4 linked regions of the Homo sapiens genome follow. The protein of the gene in region 1 purifies or fractionates together with the protein of each later gene. This does not show direct contact. Each region holds a gene or a part of one and is shown on either strand. Other genes may lie near its edges.

Evidence for each region. Proteins that work in one complex are often made in the same cells at the same time.
Region 2: the proteins of SCAF1 (region 1) and RPRD1A purify together in Homo sapiens (affinity purification with mass spectrometry; one large-scale study listed by BioGRID and IntAct). This does not show direct contact.
Region 3: the proteins of SCAF1 (region 1) and RPRD2 purify together in Homo sapiens (affinity purification with mass spectrometry, with the first as the bait; one large-scale study listed by BioGRID). This does not show direct contact.
Region 4: the proteins of SCAF1 (region 1) and RPAP2 purify together in Homo sapiens (affinity purification with mass spectrometry, with the first as the bait; one large-scale study listed by BioGRID). This does not show direct contact.

Annotation. Positions count from the first base shown.
Region 1 is NC_000019.10:49,647,864-49,653,603, reverse strand, and holds part of SCAF1 (splicing factor, arginine/serine-rich 19), read right to left. Parts: intron 2,737-5,740; coding exon 1-2,736.
Region 2 is NC_000018.10:35,989,324-35,992,457, forward strand, and holds the end of RPRD1A (regulation of nuclear pre-mRNA domain-containing protein 1A), read right to left. Parts: 3' UTR 501-3,134; downstream 1-500. UniProt on the Homo sapiens protein: Interacts with phosphorylated C-terminal heptapeptide repeat domain (CTD) of the largest RNA polymerase II subunit POLR2A, and participates in dephosphorylation of the CTD by RPAP2.
Region 3 is NC_000001.11:150,366,631-150,370,646, reverse strand, and holds part of RPRD2 (regulation of nuclear pre-mRNA domain-containing protein 2), read right to left. Parts: intron 1-4,016.
Region 4 is NC_000001.11:92,392,543-92,396,558, reverse strand, and holds part of RPAP2 (putative RNA polymerase II subunit B1 CTD phosphatase RPAP2), read right to left. Parts: 3' UTR 1-4,016.

The DNA.
Region 1 (5,740 bases):
CCTCCGCCCCCGAGTCACCGGCTGTGGACCCCGCGCTGGGGGCAGTGCTTGGGGCGGCTGCAGCAGTGCTGGTGGCCGTGGTGGTAGCAGGCTGCTGCTCCTCCTCCTCTTCCTCTTCCTCCTCCTCTTCTTCTTCCTCCTCCTCCTCCTCCGCCCCACCTCGGACCCCAGCCTCCTCAGTGGCCTCCTCGGGCAGGAAGGAGACCTCAGGTGTCTTGCAGCTGCTGTCCACGGTCTGCGAGTCCGGAGTGAGGGCAGGGGGTGGTGGGGCTGCCTTGGGGGGCGGGGTGCTAGGAACCTTGGCTGCCCGCTCCTCCCCGGACCAGGAAGTCTCCTCCGCCCCCTTGGTGCCTGCCGCCTGGCTGCAGCTATCCGCCTTGGACTTCTTCAGCGACACCTGGCCACCACTGCCCCCGCTGCCACCTCCACTGCGGACCTTTTTCCTGGTCTTGGATGGCTTGGTCTTTCCCTTGGTCCCCTTGGTTTTCTTGGCCCCTGCCTTGGCCTTGACCTTGGTCTTTTTGGGCTTGGTGCTGCCCGGAGCTGCTTTGGCCATCTCAGTGGGGGCCCGCTCGTCAGGTTTGAGGAAGGGGGAGCGACTCTCGCGGTCACGGCTGAATTTGACGCCAATGGAGCCCAGGCCGGCTGACGCGGCATCCTTGGCCGGGGTGGTGCTGCTGACACCCTCGCGGATCAGCACCGCCACCTTGGACTGCAGCTTCACCTTCCGGGAAGAACAGGAGGACGACGAGGATGAAGAGCCTGAGCCGCTGCTGACTGGTGGCTTTGGCGGGGGCCCTGAGGAAGGCGCCGACTCCTTGGGGGGCCGGGCCTTCTTGGATGACCTGTCCCTGTCCCTATCTCTGTCCCTGTCCCGATCCCGGTCACCCCCGTCCAGCGCCTTCCGACGAGACCCCTTCTCCCGGGAAGAGGAGGAGGAGGAGGCGGCCCCCGAGCGGCGCCGATCCTTCTGGCTGCTCTTGCCGCCCCGCTCCTCGCCGCTCAGTCCCTCGGAGTCGTACAGGACCTCCCGCTTAGGTGAGGAGGCCGGAGCAGGAGAGGGTCCTCGGGGGTCGGACTTGTCAAGCCGGCCCACCGTGATGGTCCGCTTGATGGCGAAGAGGTCGTGGTCCGTGAGGTCCTGGATGGAGGGTGGCACGGCCCCCCGGCGGCGGCTGTCGCGGTCACCACACGAGGTGGAGCCAGAGGGCGGCGGGGCGGGCGCCGGGGCCTTCTCGCTGCCATCCCCAGACCGCTTCTCACCCCGGGACCGCGACCGCTTCTTCTTCTTCTTGCTGCCGCCACCGTCCCGGTGTTTCCCGCGGTGCCGCTCGCGCCTCGAGGACGACGATGAGGAAGTGGCCGGGGGCGGGGAGGCGGAGCGCCGCCGCCGTCGCCGCTTCTCCCGGGACCGCGACCTGCGGCTGCCCCCGCGGCGGCGGTCGGTGCTGCGCGAGCGGCGGCGGGTGGAGCGGGAGCGGGAGCGGGAGCGGGAGCGGCGGCGGGCGGACGACGAGGCGTGGGAGCCGGGCTTGCGGTCCCGCGAGCGGTGCTTCTTGGAGTCCCAGGGCGAGGCCGGGGCGGGCGGCGCTGGCTGGGTGCCCGACGAGGACGAGGCGGCCTCCTTGGCCTCGCCGCTGCGCTTGCGTTCCCGCCTGGACTTCTTGCGCGTGGGCGGACCAGCAGCGGCGGCCGGGGCGGGCGCGGGCGCCGGGGAGGGCGAGCGCTGGCGGTAGCGCTCCCGCCGTTGGGTCAGGATCTTGCGGCGCAGGTCCAGGCCGCCCCAGCGCGAGTCGGCGGCGGGCGGCGCGGGAGCCGGCTCCCCTAGGTCCACCTGCAGGGCGCCCTCGCCGTCCGACTCCGCATGCAGGGACAAGAAGTCGTCCCCCTCGGGGGCCCGCGGAGCGGGAGGCTGAGGAAGGGGCTGGGCCGTGGGGGTGGCCGAGGCGGCCGGTGTAGGCCGGGCGGCCCGGCCGCCGGGGCGGAAGAGGGACAGCGCCAGCCTGGGCTCCTCCTCCGGCTGGACGATCTCCCCTTCCTCGATCTCCGAGTCGCCGGGCGGCAGCAGGGGCGGCGGGAGGGCGGCTCCACCAGCGGTCACCACCTCCACCGAGACCTTGCCTTCCCGACAAGCCTCTGCCTCGGTCCCCACCACGAAGACCCGCCGGCGCATGGCTCCATCAGCCCGGGTGGAGTCCACCTGGGGCGGCGTTCCAGGGGCGGGAGTCGGCTGTGTGGGCTGCGCGTCCGGGCGGGGGCTCTCGTCACCTGGGAAGTCCTGGCTCAGGCTGTTGTCATCGTAGATGCCCGCCAGGGTCTCCGAGATGCGGCTGATGCTCTGGGACAGGCCTTCCTCCTCCTCCTCGTCTTCCTCTTCCTCTTCTTCTTCCTCTTCCTCCTCCTCTTCCTCCTCAGGTGAGGGGGTCCCCGCTGATGAGCTGGGGTTGGAGCCGGTGGGCTCAAAAGGGTCGTACTTTTGCTCCGGAGCAGGCGGTGGAGAGTAGGCCTCGTCGGTGGGGTGGAAGGGGTCATAGATATCGAATCGGGGGGCAGGTGGGGCTGGGGGTGCAGGGGGCGGTGGGGGTGGGGGAGGGGAAGGGGAGGAAGATGAGGGAGAAGGGGAAGGGGAGGAGGATGCAGAGGAGGGGGCAGGGGGTGGGGCAGGGCCCCCGTCTCCCGTGCCCAAGGTGAGGTGACGGGCACAGGTGGGCCTAGAGGAGTTCGACTGTGGAGAAACTGCAAAGGAACAGGGAGAGAGAGGCGGTCAGGGCCTTTGCCTCCCTCCTGGTGCCTGCTTGCTGGCCCAGCCGTGGACACTCCCTGGGCCACCAGGTCCTGCCCAGGAAGCCCCAAGTGCTTCACAGGAGCCAGCCGTAGGATGCTCCCAACAACTGCACACCATGGTTCTTAACCCAAAGGTCACAGGAGGAAACTGAGGCAGAGGGCTGCAGTATCCTCCCCAAGGGCACACAGAGAGAAGGCAGCAGTCAGGGTGTAAACTCAGTCAGTGCGGCCCCGAACCTGCACTCCCATATCCTGAGACAGCACTGGCCTGACCCTGGGCAATGTACCCTGGCCTTGAAACTAGGAACTATCTTGACCAGTGCCGGCGACCCATCCCAGGAGGAGGTGGAGGCTGCAGTGAGCTATGACCACAACACCACACTCCATCCTGGGGGGAGAAGAAACAGGAAAACAGGCTGCAGGGGGAGAGCTGGGATTCAAACCTAAGTCCCCCTCCAAGACAAAAACAAGCTCTGGCCTGCTGCGCCAGCTGCCTCTCGTGGGAGTTTCTCCCGTTTGGTAGAGGGTGAGATTCCAGTGCAGAGCCAGGAAATGGCAGAGCTGGGGAGCCCAGGAAGGCTGGTCTTCACCCCAAGCTCTTCACTCTGTGCTGAGTCCCCACCCAAGGAATTACATCTGCTCAGGACTCAAAGACACCACTGACCAGTGACAGTGGCAATGACAAAGGTTTGCCTCTTCCTCCAAACCAGGCATGGTGCTTCGTATGTCACCTCATTCGCCCCCAAAGAGCCCGCTGCACTGTGCTAAGTACTACAGTCATGATGCCACAGTCACACGATGGAGATGGCTGACAGAGGCCACACCACAGGCAAGGATGCCAGCAGAGTGGTGTGAGGACAGTGCCAGGGAAGGAGAGGGGTCAAGAGGGCAGCACCAGAGCCACCCCTTGATCCAGGGGCTGGCCCTCACCAGCCACATGACCACAGGCAAGTGGATCAATGTGTCTTACTTCAGTTTCCTCATCTATAAAATGGGGGTATGTTCATTCATCCAACACCCTTTATGGCCGGGTGGGGTGGCTCATGCCTGTAATCCCAGAACTTTGGGAGGCCGAGGTGGATGGATCACCTGAGGTTGGGAGTTCGAGACCAGCCTGACCAACATGGAGAAAGCCCATCTCTACTAAAAATACCAAATTAGCCGGGTGTGGTGGCACATGCCTGTAATCCCAACTACTCGGGAGGCTGAGGCAGAAGAATCACTCGAAACCAGGAGGCAGAGGTTGCAGTGAGCCGAGATCGTACCACTGCACTCCAACCTGGGCAACAAGACCAAAACTTCATCTCAAAAACAAACAAAAAAAATATCAATGAGTGGAGTGTACGGTCCCTCAGCTGCCAAGGGCTTAGGGGAAGATGAAACAGGGGTGATGATGACAGCATTTACTTCCCAGGATAAGCGGAGGAATAGATGAGTGCGCAGAAAGAGCCAGGCTGCACCTGCTGCTGGGTGAGGACAGTCTGAGCCTCAGCTTTTCCTAGCCTCATTGCTATTCCCAGCACCTTAAGCACAAAATACTCTCCACAGACTAGAGCGCTCTGCAAACACGCGAGATCCACAGCTTTATATAAATTTCTGTATGGGACAGGATTATGGGTGAACTTTCTTTTCTTTTTAAAGCTACCTGGAATAAGCAAAGAAAACATAACCTCAGAGTCCCCCTGAAAACAACTACTATTAGCTTCCGGATACACCCTTATCACTCTTAAGGCCCAGGGGTCAAATCCAGCATACCACCTGTTTTCCTAAATCAAGTTTTAGAGGAACGTTGCCTGACCCATTTGTTTACTTATCCTCTGCAGCTTCTGATTTTTTTTTTTTTTTTTTTTGAGAGGGAGTCTCACTCTGTTACCCAGGCTGGAGTGCAGTGGCACGATCTCAGCTCACTGCAACCTCCATCTCCTGGTTCAAGCAATTCTCCTGCCTCAGCCTCCCGAGTAGCTGGGACTAGAGGCGTGTGCCACCATGCCCAGCTAATTTTTGTATTTTTAATGGAGACAGGGTTTCACCATGTTGGCCAGGATGGTCTCAATCTCTTGACCTCATGATCCGCTCACATTGGCCTCCCAAAGTGCTGGGATTACAGGCGTGAGCCACCGTGCCCAGCCCTACAGCTTCTGATTTTAAAGAAATTGAAACACTTTTGTGGGCCCCTAAGAATGTCATAAGTCCTAGGCACCATATCACTGTACTTAATGGATAAATCATTTCCAGCTGTTAAAAAAAAAGGGGGGGGGGTGTGGCAGGCATGGTGGCTCATGCCTGTGATCTCAGCAGTTTGAGAGGCCAAGGCAGGAGGATTGCTTGAGCTCTGGAGTTTAAGACCAGCCTGCGCAACATATCAAGACCTCATCTCTATTAAAAATTTTAAAAAAATAAAAAATAAAGGCTGGGCGTGGTGGCTCACGCCCATAATCCCAGCAGTTTGGGAGGTTGAGGCAGGCGGATCACTTCAGGTCAGGAGTTTGAGACCAGCCTGGCCAACACAGTGAAACCCTACCTCTACTAAAAATACAAAAATTAGCTCAATGTGGTGGCATGCGCACCTATAATCCCTGCTACTCAGGAGGCTGAGGCAGGAGAGAATCACTTGAACCCGGGAGACGGAGGTTGCAGAGAGACTAGACCCCACTACTGCACTCCGGCCTAGGTGACACAGTAAGACTCCATCTCAAAAAAAGAAAAAAGAAAAAAAAAAACTAGCCAGGCATGGTGGCATGCACCTGTAGTCCCAGCTACTCCAGAGACTGAGACAACAGGATAACTTGAACCGGGGAATTTGAGGCTGCAGTGAGCTGTGACTGTGCCACTGCACTCTAGCCTGGGGGACGCAGTGAGACCCTGTCTCAAAAAAAACAAACAAGGTAGCAGGGCACAGTGGCTCACGCCTGTAATCCCAGCACTGTGGGAGGCTGAGGCGGGCGGATCACTTGAG
Region 2 (3,134 bases), on another chromosome or scaffold:
GGTCCCTAACCCCAGTGGCATCAGCATCAAGTTGTTTGAACTGTAAACCATCAGGCCTTACCCCAGACCTACTGAATCAGAAGCTCTGGGAGTGGGGCCCAACTATCTGTAGTTTATAAATCCTCTAGGTCAGGGATGTCCAATCTTCTGACTTCCCTGGGCCACCCTGAAGAAGAATTGTCTTGGGCTGCACATAAAATACACTAATGATAGCTAATGAGCTAAAAAAAAAATCTCATAATGTTTTAGTTTACAAATTTGTGTTGCACCACACTCAAAGCCGTCCTGGGTCACGTGCAGCTCACAGGTTGGACAAACTGGCTCTAGGTAATTCTGATGCTCGCTCAAGTTTGGGAACTACTGGCCAAGTAAATCTCCTCCTTCAGCAGTCTCTCTACCATAACATCAGAATTATTTCCAGTACTTTGCTTCCCTCCCAGTCCATTAATCTTTCCCCTTCCCACCCCATATCCAATGAATCAGATTCACAAAACAACCTACACATTTCAAAAAGAACATAAAACTTTATTAAGAACATCTTATACTGTCATCAGATACAGCCAAAGAAGAACGGGTAAACAAACAGGGAAAGTTCATCTTCCCATGTGCTATTGCCACCTCAGAACAGACTCCTGTGTGGATGGCTGGAACAACAGTTGGCAACAAATGCTCTGTATAAATAATTCATTAAGTAACACAATGTTTCCTTTCTATACAGAGAAGAACTGGGCTTACATTTTAAGTTTTGATATAGTGCAACAACTATGAAACAAGACTACATCCTTAGGAGCTATTTCTTAATAGAATACAAAGCAGTTTAGTAGCTTTATGTTATTTCAGATAATGTAATTTTTTTAATGAAAAATTCAGAAAGGACATTCTAACTTTCCCAATTAGTTAATTTGTACTGTTGAGTTTTTTCTCTCTAAAGATTTCTCAGAATCAGTTCAGTAACTATACTTTAAAAAGATGAGTTGCTCATCTACAGTGATAACTGACAACTTAGTTTTGTGATTTTGCAAATCAAGATGCCTGGGTCATCCCCACTTTTGCTGATTCTGAAAGATTTCTTATAGAAAAACCCTGATTCAGAGTGCATGTGATAGGAGATACCAAAATAGCTGCATCTGGACAGGGAGGTTGGCTATTGAGCACAGCTGATTCTCAGATTCCTGGTTCCCCTCTATGGTCCTTTTACTTACTGTAGTGATGGAAGGAGAGAAGGAGCGCCCGAGAATCTGTTCAGATTGTGACTCCAGACAGCTCTCTGCACTGTATGTGGAGAAAAGAGTGATGGCATCCATTCAAACCATAGCAGCCCTACGGCACCATGCTTTTCTCTTGAGGGGTCAGACCAAACTGCACTCAAAGATGCATGATCTGCCTCAGGTGCACAGTGGAGAAAACGCTCATGATTTACAATTTGGTATTATAATACCCCCAACTAATCCCATTTCTTGAGAAAATGAAGTCTTCCTTTTAGGAAGAATGTTTGCTGCTAAGGCTTACCATGTTAATTATCACACGGCTGAAAAGATGACTTCTAAATCAGACTGTATTGTCTGTGTTCAGTTAATACGTTAACCAACAACTGAAGTTTGTGGAGGATTGGTCGAGGGGTGGGATTCAGGTTTTTGAGTACTATCACTTATCACAAATCTCATCAAGCTCTTTAAAAAAATAATGCATTTTTATCATAAATATTTAGAGCAGATACTGGCATTAAAATCAGTATCTAAGTCAGAAGTCTGTCTGAAATGGTGAAAATATTTCAACAAACTTCTAAAAGATTTCAAATCTTCCCAGGAGTACATAGTTTATAAATTAGTTTTAAATGGAAAAAAATATATATTTTGAATGGATAAATCACCACTTTAGCAGATCATAAATAAGGTCAAGATATTGAAAATAAGTTAACATACAAGTTTTTGCTTTCACATTAATAATAAAAACTAACTTACTTAGTATACTTTCATAACATGTACAACCAGGTTTCATAATTGTGCATCTGTCACCTCCCCACTTGGCTGAATCTTTTTCTTCCATTTCCTACACCTAGGGACAGAGGTACACAGACATCCCAGGGTGTGAGTGTGGCTGCTGCATGCTGTGTCCTAGTTAGAGCAGTGTTACAAATGCTGGTCAGGATCTATGATTAGTAACCTGTGAACCACGTTACAAGTGAAGGACATTCATGGTTAGGTGGATTCAGTTCCCAGGTGAGCTATCAGCGGTAGTGTTAGGGAACCTAACTACTATTCTTTCTGTGAGAAAATGCACCCCAAGTCCCAAAAGTTGACTAAAAACTTTGGAATAAGCCATGTATTATTAGTAGTGCATGGATGAGCACTACTTATATGTGTCTCTGTTTTGGAGAGAGGTCAAATTGTTAAAAGAACTATTTGCAGAACTACTTGGCTATTAAAAATAAATGTCTGCCTTCTTCATATGCAATTCATTGTAACTATAATTTCTAATACTGAGAAAGAAACAATGAAGCCATTCAGACTAGAGAGACATAATTGGCTTGTGGGATTTTCAAGATGTTTTATTGACTATCTAATTTGAATCTACTTACAAAGAGAAGAAAAATGTCTAGTATGTAAAGCAATGAATGAAAATAAATGTTTATCCTAAGTCATTATTGAGTACAAATCCACAGCTTAACAATGTGTTTTTAACAGCAGGAGAGCATGCAACTGCTCTAACACACAGGGTCAGAAATAAAAGGTAAAAGTACATTTGTTTTGTAACTGTAAATATACAAATATAAAATTTACCATATCTACCCTGTAGTGTGGCACTGCTTAACTGCCAAATATACAGTCATTCAAAAACCTTAAGGAAACATTGAAAATGTCTCAGGCTACTTTACTGAACATTAACGAATATTGTGTTCTTGAGCTATTAGAGCTAAAAGTATTATTTTTAAAGTTATATGAGCAAGGGAATAATAAAAGTATCATTTCACGTGTCTTTTAATCCCATAGACGGCTTTTTGTTAAAGGGATTAATTATGTTAAAAGGAAACTGATTTGACAAATAGAAACCAGTTCCAGAACCAAAGTTGTCCTCTTGGTAGAATGTCAAAATGTATATTATTTCCAAAGTATTTTCATTATTAATCTACTCAA
Region 3 (4,016 bases), on another chromosome or scaffold:
GTCAAGATCATGCCACTGCACTCCAGCCTGGGTGACAGAACAAGAATATGTCTCAAAAAAAAAAAAAAAAAAAAGACAAAATGGATGTCATTAACACAATATTTTCCATTTTGTCCTCCTAGTTCTTCAAAGCATATGCTAATTTACTACAGAGAGGCTAGTCCAATTCGTCTCTCACAAACTGGGAATGTAATTTCCAGCACTGTAGACAGTGTCTGGAATGTAAATTCCAGACAGAATTATCTCTACTTGTAGATTGTAGAACTTTCATCTACAGGTACAGAACTACTTATAGATGAAAAACTGAGGTTCACAGTTTAAGTACTTTGCAAAGTGTCATCCAGTATTAAGTGACCGGAGTTAACATGTTAACACAGGCCTCTTTTATATTTTTCCATATTGATTCCCATTTTACCATTAAAAATGGGAAAGAAGGTCTGGGCCTGGTGGTTCACGCCTGTAATCCTACCACTTTGGGAGACCAAGGCAGGCAGATAGCTTGAGCCCAAGAGTTCAGCCTGGGCAACATGGCAATACCTCGTCTCTACAAAAAACATAAAAATTTGGCCGGGCGTGGTGGCTCACGCCTGTAATCCCAGCACTTTGGGAGGCTGAGGTGGGCGAATCACTTGAAGTCAGGAGTTTGAGACCAGTCTGGCCAACATGGTGAAACCCCATCTCTACTAAAAAATACAAAAATTAGTTGGGCGTGGTGGCATGTGCCTGTAATCCCAGCTACTCAGGAAGCGGAGGCATGAAAATCACTTGAGCCCGGGAGATGGAGGTTGCAGTGAGCCGAGATTCCGCCACTGTACTCCAGCCTAGGCGACAGAGTGAGACTCTGCATCAAAAAAAAACAAAAACAAAAACATAAAAATTAGCCAGGTGTAGGCCGGGCACAGTGGCTCACGCCTGTAATCCCAGCACTTTGGGAGGCTGAGGCGGGCGGATCATGAGGTCAGGAGATCCAGACCACGGTGAAACCCCGTCTCTACTAAAAATACAAAAAAAAAAAAAAAAAAATTAGCTGGGCGCGGTGACGGGCGCCTGTAGTCCCAGCTGCTCGGGAGGCTGAGGCAGGAGAATGGCGTGAACCCGGGAGGCGGAGCTTGCAGTGAGCCGAGATCGCGCCACTGCACTCCAGCCTGGGCGACAGAGCAAGACTCCGTCTCAAAAAAAAAAAAAAAAAAAAAAAAAAAAAAAAATTAGCCAGGTGTGGTGGCATGGTTCCAGCTACTCAGGAGGCTGAGGTGGCAGGATTGCTTGAGCCCAGGAGGCGGAGGTTGCAGTGAGCGGAGATCATGCCCTGCACTCCAGCCTGGGCAACAGAGCCAGACTCTGTCCCTCCCCCACCTCCCCACAGAAAAGAGAGAAAGAAGAACGAAGTACAGAAATGATAATCTGGGCAAATTGCACATCAAGTCCATATGCCTCCAACTGCTGCACCTGTAATTTCTTTCACTAAATTATAAATGCTTCCTTCTGATAAACAGAAATTAAAGCAATTCTGTTCCTTAAGTTCTTGATTAGCTATTTCACATTATGTTGGCAAACATTTACTGATTGCTAACTGTACGCCAGCACTATCCTAGTTGTTTGGGGACAGGGCAACAAATAAGACAAACTTGTCATCTGGTGGAGGGAAGCCAGACAATAAACGTGTAACAAACAAGGTAATATCATATACTGAAAATAAGATGATGTGACAGCAATTGAAGGCACTACTTGAAATAAAGCGAAGCCGGGTGCAGTGGCTCACGCCTGTAATTCCAACACTTTGGGAGGCTGAGGTGGGTAGATCGCCTGAGATCAGGAGTTCAAAACCAGCCTGGCCAACATGGTGAAACCCTGTCTCTACAAAAAATACAAAAATTAGCCAGGTACCGGGTGCGGCGGCTCACACCTGTAATCCCAGCACTTTGGGAGGCTGAGAGGCAGGTGGATCACCTGAGGTCCAGAGTTCAAGACCAGCCTGGCCAACATGGTGAAACCCTGCGTCTACTAAAAATACAAAAATTAGCCAGGCATGGTGGCGCATGCCTGTAATTCCAGCTACTTGGGAGGCTGAGGCAGGAGAATCACTTGAACCTGGGAGGCGGAGGTTGCAGTGAGCTGAGATCGTGCCATTATACTCCAGCATGGGTGAAAAGAGTGAAACTCTGTCTCAAAAAAAAAAAAAAAAAAAAATTAGCTGGGCTTAGTGGTGCACGCCTGTAATCCCAGCTACTCAGGAGGCTGAGGCAAGAGAATCACTTTGACCTGGGAGGAAGAGGTTGCAGTGAGCTGAGATCACGCCACCGCACTCCAGACTGGACGACAAAGCGAAATTCCATCTCAAAAAAATTAAATTAAATTAAATTAATTTAAAATAAATAAAAAACAGATACATGTAATTTAAAAAAATCTATTAAGACTCCGTATTAAAAAAAAAAAAAAAAAAACAAGAAATAAGGTGATCAAAGTAGGTCTTTCTGAGGAGGTAATAGTTGAGATTTGATCTAAACAATGAGAAGGAGGCAGGATGTGAAGAAGCCCGAGGTAGGCAGAGCAGATGGTACAGGACTTACAGATCAATGTAAAAGAAATTCAGACCTTCAACTTGTTGCAATGGGATATCACTGCAGGGTTTTAAAGCAGAGGAATGACATTTGTTTATGCTACAGAAAGATCACCTTAGAAAATGATGGTCTGAGGTCAGGAGTTCGAGACCACCCTGGCCAACATGGTAAAACCCTGTCTCTACTAAAAATACAAAAATTAGCTGGACGTGGTGGTGCGTGCCTGTAATCCCAGCTACTTGGGAGGCTGAGGCAGGAGAATTGCTTGAACCCTGGAGGTGGAGGTTGCAGTGAGCTGAGATCGCGCCACTGCACTCCAGTCTGGACGACAGAGCGAGACTCCATCTCAAAAAAAAAAAAGTAAAGAAGGATAAAATAAAAATATCTCTGGAACATATCCTTAGATAGCCTATTTCTCTAAATTATTTCCTTTTATATGAACAAAAGTCTCATTACACACTGAAATAAAGGATAAAATTAAAATATCTCTGGAATCTAATAGTTACTTAAATTTATACTGAGGTCTAAATATAAATATAAATTACTAAATAACGGATGTCAGAAGAAAAAAGAGAAGCAAAGTGGCATCAGGAAAATGGACAGAAAGGCTGGGAATGCCAAAGATACCTGCTTCACAATTTTTCCTAAAGCTGACTTAGAAACCAAACTCAGAGTCCAAAGATACCTGCTTCACAATTTTTCCTAAAGCTGACTTAGAAACCAAACTCAGAGTAAACTAAGTATAACTGTAAAGAAATAAGAACTTAAATGAAAACAAGGCCCATGCATAAACTGTTTTCATTGCGCCCCACACCATTCTGCTGAATATTTCTCTCAAAACGCTTTATTTACAATGAGACCAGTGAAGTTCATTAAATGTAAATACAAAACGACTAAAATTACCCTTAATCATTTTAGAAAGTTAAATTCCATTCCACTAGAAAAACAACATCATATTTAGCCAAAAGCACTTAACTATATAAACTATACACAATGCACTTCAACTGACACACTGCCCTCCTGGAGCATTCATTTTTTCACTCTTAAGATATCAATAAAGGAAATAAGCTCAGGCACAATAGCAACAACAGCTGAGGTAAAAAATTCTGGCTTCATTTTATCTCATTATTGCTGACTAGAAAAAAAACTGTAATTGTCGCTTGTGATCCCACACAGCAGAGACGGGACAGGGACCAACTTATTCTTGCAAATGATGTAACCATACAGTTAAAGCCCCAGAGCCCAAGGTGAGGAAATGTAAAATGCTTGCATAGGTCAGTAAAAATGTTTTAAAATAGGGTGGAGAAGAGGTTCTCTCACTCACATTAGAACTGTTTGCAATATATCACTGGTATACCAAGAACGTTAAACATTATTTTACAAAGTTAATGATGAAGTCAAACCCTAACCCCACCATTTTACTGAGTAACCTTAAGCAACTTAATTTCCGAGTCTTAG
Region 4 (4,016 bases), on another chromosome or scaffold:
AGGCAATCCATGTTTTCACATCAGACCCATGCAACTGCTAATTTAGTATATGCCTTTTCTGGACTGTAAATGGAAACATACCATATGTGGGATATTGCATCAGACTTCTTTCACTAAGCATAATGTTTTGAGATGCATCCATATTGTAGCCTATATCACTACTCCATTGTATACATATATCATTTAAAGAAATCCACCAGTTAAAAAAAAAAAGAAAAAGAAATAATCTGGGTATGTTGGTGCCTGCCTGCAGTCCCAGTTACTGAGGAGGCTGAGGCAGGAGGATTGTTTGAGCCCAGGAGTTTGACTTCAGAGTATGCAACATAGTGAGGCCTCATCTCTTAAAAAAAAAAAAAAAATCCAGTAGTTGATGGTCATTTGGTTTCCACTTTTTGACTAATATGAATGATAATGCTATGAACATTTGCCTACGAGTCTTGATGTGAACACATTTCCACTTCTCTTCTCATGGAATAGCAGGATCATATGGTAAACTTATGTTTATCTTTTTAAGAAACTGCCAAACTGTTTTCCAAAGTGGCTGCACCATTTTACATTCCCACCAGCAATGCATTAGGGCTCCAGTTTCTCCACATCATCACCAACACATATCTTTGTCTGTCTTTTTTATTATAGTCATTTTAGTGGGTCCAAAATGGTATCTAATTTTGCTTTTAACTTGTATTTTCCTAATGACTAGTGATAGTACACATCTCTTCATATGCTAAGCAATTTGTATATCTTTGCTGAAATATCTATTCAAACATTTTGTCCATTTTTAAGTTGTCTGCCTTATTTTTGAGTTTTAAGAATTCTTTACATAGTCTAGATACAAGTCCTCTATCAGATACTTATTATGGTTTGAAAATATTTTCTCCCAGTCTGTGATTTTTCAATTAATTTTTTTTTTTTTTTTTTTTTTTGAGACAGGGTCTCACTCTGTCACCCAGGCTCTAGTGCGGTGGTGTGATCTTGGCTCACTGCAACCTCTGCCTCCCAGGGTCAAGAGATCCTCCCACCTCAGCCTTCTGAGTAGCCAGGACTACAGGAGCACGCCACCATGCCTGGTTAATTTTTGTATTTTTTGTGGAGATGGCATTTTGCTCTGTTGTCCAGTCTGGTCTCAAATTCCTGAGCTCAAGTGGTCCACCCTCCTTGGCTTCCGAAAGTGCAGGGATTTCAGATGTGAACCACCTCCCCGGGCCAATTAATTTTCTTAATAGTTTTTTGAAACAAAATTTTATATTTTAATGAAGTCCAATTTATTAATATTTTCTTTTATGAATTGTGCTATTAGTGTCTTAAGAATTCTTCCTAAACCAAGGTCATCTAGGTTTTCTCCCATGTTTTCTTCTACATGTTTTATAGTTTTAGCTCTTACATGTAGGTGTGTGATCAATTTTGAGTTTATTTTTGCATATGGTAGGAGGTAAGAATCTAAATTAATTTCTTCTGCATTTGATATCCAAATATCCTAGCACTATTTGTTGAAAAGACCATCTTTTCTCCATAATTTCATTGGGATTTTTGTCAAAACTTAATTGATCATAAATGTGAAGGTTTATTCCTGGACTCTGTTCCACTGATCTGTATGCCTATCTTTATATCAGTACCACACTGTCTTGATTAATGTAGCTTTGTAGTAAGTTCTGGATCAGAATTATTTCTTCATTTTCAGAATTATTTTGGCTATTCTGAATCCTTTATGTTTTCATACAGATTTTAAGATTGGCTTGTCAATTTTTCAAAAAAGCCTGCTGTGATTTTGATAGGGATTGCATTGTAGATTAATTTGGGGAGAACTGCTATCTTAACAACATTTGATCTTCCAATTCATGAACATGGATTGTGTCTACATTTCTTGATACCTTCTTTAATCTCTCTGAATTTTTCTTTTTCTTTTTTTGAGACAGGGTCTTGCTCTGTTGCCCAGGCTGGAGTGCACTGGCACAGTCACAGCTAACTGCAGCCTCAACCTCCCAAGCTCAGGCAATCCTCCCAATGTAGCCTCTCAAGTAGCTGGGACTACAGGTGTGCAGCACCATGCCTGGCTAGTTTTTTAAAATTTAATAATTATTTTTTTTATTATACTTTAAGTTCTGGGTTACATGTGCAGAACATGTAGTTTTGTTACATAGGTATACACATGCCATGGTGGTTTGCTGCACCCACCAACCTGTCACCTACATTAGGTATTTCTCCTAATGTTATCCCTCCCTTAGCCCCCCACCCCCCACAGGCCCTGGTGTGTGATGTTACCCTCCCTGTGTCCATGTGTTCTCATTGTTTAACTCCCACTTATGAGTGAGAACATGCGTTGTTTGGTTTTCTGATCTTGTGATAGTTTGCTGAGAATGATGGTTTCCGGCTTTATCCATGTCCCTGCAAAGGACATGAACTCATCCTTTTTTATGGCTGCATAGTATTCCATGGTATACATGTGCCACATTTTCTTAATCCAGTCTATCATTGACGGGCATTTGGGTTGGTTTCAAATCTTTGCTATTGTGAATAGTGCAGCAATAAACATACGTGTGCATGTGTCTTTATTGTAGAATGATTTATAATCTTTTGGGTATATGCCCAATAGTGGGATTGCTGGGTCAAATGGTATTTCCAGTTCTAGATCCTTGAGGAGTCGTCACACTGACTTCCACAATGGTCGGACTAATTTGCACTCCCACCAACAGTGTAAAAGCGTTCCAATTTTTCCACAACCTCTCCAGCATCTATTGTTTCCTGATTTTTAATGATCGCCATTCTAACTGGCATGAGATGGTATCTCACTGTGGTTTTGATTTTCATTTCTCTAATGACTAGTGATGATGAGCATTTTTTCATATGTCTGTTGGCTGCATAAATGTCTTCTTTTGAGAAGTATCTGTTCATATCCTTTGCCCATTTTTTGATGGGGTTGTTTGCTTTTTTCTTGTAAATTTGTTTAAGTTCTTTGTAGATTCTGGATATTAGCCCTTTGTCAGATGGATATATTGCAAAAATGTTCTCCCATTCTGTAGGTTGCCTGTTCACTCTGATGATAGTTTATTTTGCTGTGCAGAAGCTCTTTAATTAGAACCCATTTGTCAATTTTGGCTTTTGTTGCCATTGCTTTTGGTGTTTTAGACATGAAGTCTTTGCCCATGCCTATGTCCTGAATGGTATTGCCCAGGTTTTCTTCTAGGATTTTTATGGTCCTAGGTCTTACGTTTAAGTCTTTGTTCCATCTTGAGTTGATTTTTGTATAAGGTGTAAGGAAAGGGTCCAGTTACAGTTTTCTGCATATGGCTAGCCCGTTTTCCCAACACCATTTATTAAATAGGGAATCTTTTCCCCATTGCTTGTGTGTGTCAGGTTTGTCAAAGATCAGATGGTGGTAGACGTGTGGTGTTATTTCTGAGGCCTCCATTCTGTTCCATTCGTCTGCATATCTGTTTTTGTACCAGTGCCATGCTGTTTTGGTTACTGTAGGCTTGTAGTAAAGTTTGAAGTCAGGTAGTGTGATGCCTCCAGCTTTGTTCTTCTTGCCCAGGATTGTCTTGGCTAGGTGGGCTCTTTTTTGGTTCCATATGAATCTTAAAGTAGTTTTTTCCAATTCTGTGAAGAAAGTTAGTGGTAGCTTGATGGGGATAGCATTGAATCTATAAATCAGTTTGGGCAACAAGGCCATTGTCATGATATTGATTCTTCCTATCCATGAGCATGGAATGTTTTTCCATTTGTTTGTGTCCTCTCTTATTTCCTTGAGCAGTGCTTTGTATTTTATTTTCTTAGTAGCAATTGTGAATGGGAGTTCACTCATGATTTGGCTCTTTGTCTATTATTGGTATATAGGAATGCTTGTGATTTTTGCACACCGATTTTGTATCCTGAGACTTTGCTGAAGTTGCTTATCAGCTTAAGGAGATTTTGGGATGAGACGATGGGGTTTTCTAAATATACAATCATGTCATCTGCAAACAGAGACAATTTGACTTCCTCTCTTCCTATTTGAATATGCTTTATTGCTTTCTCTTGCC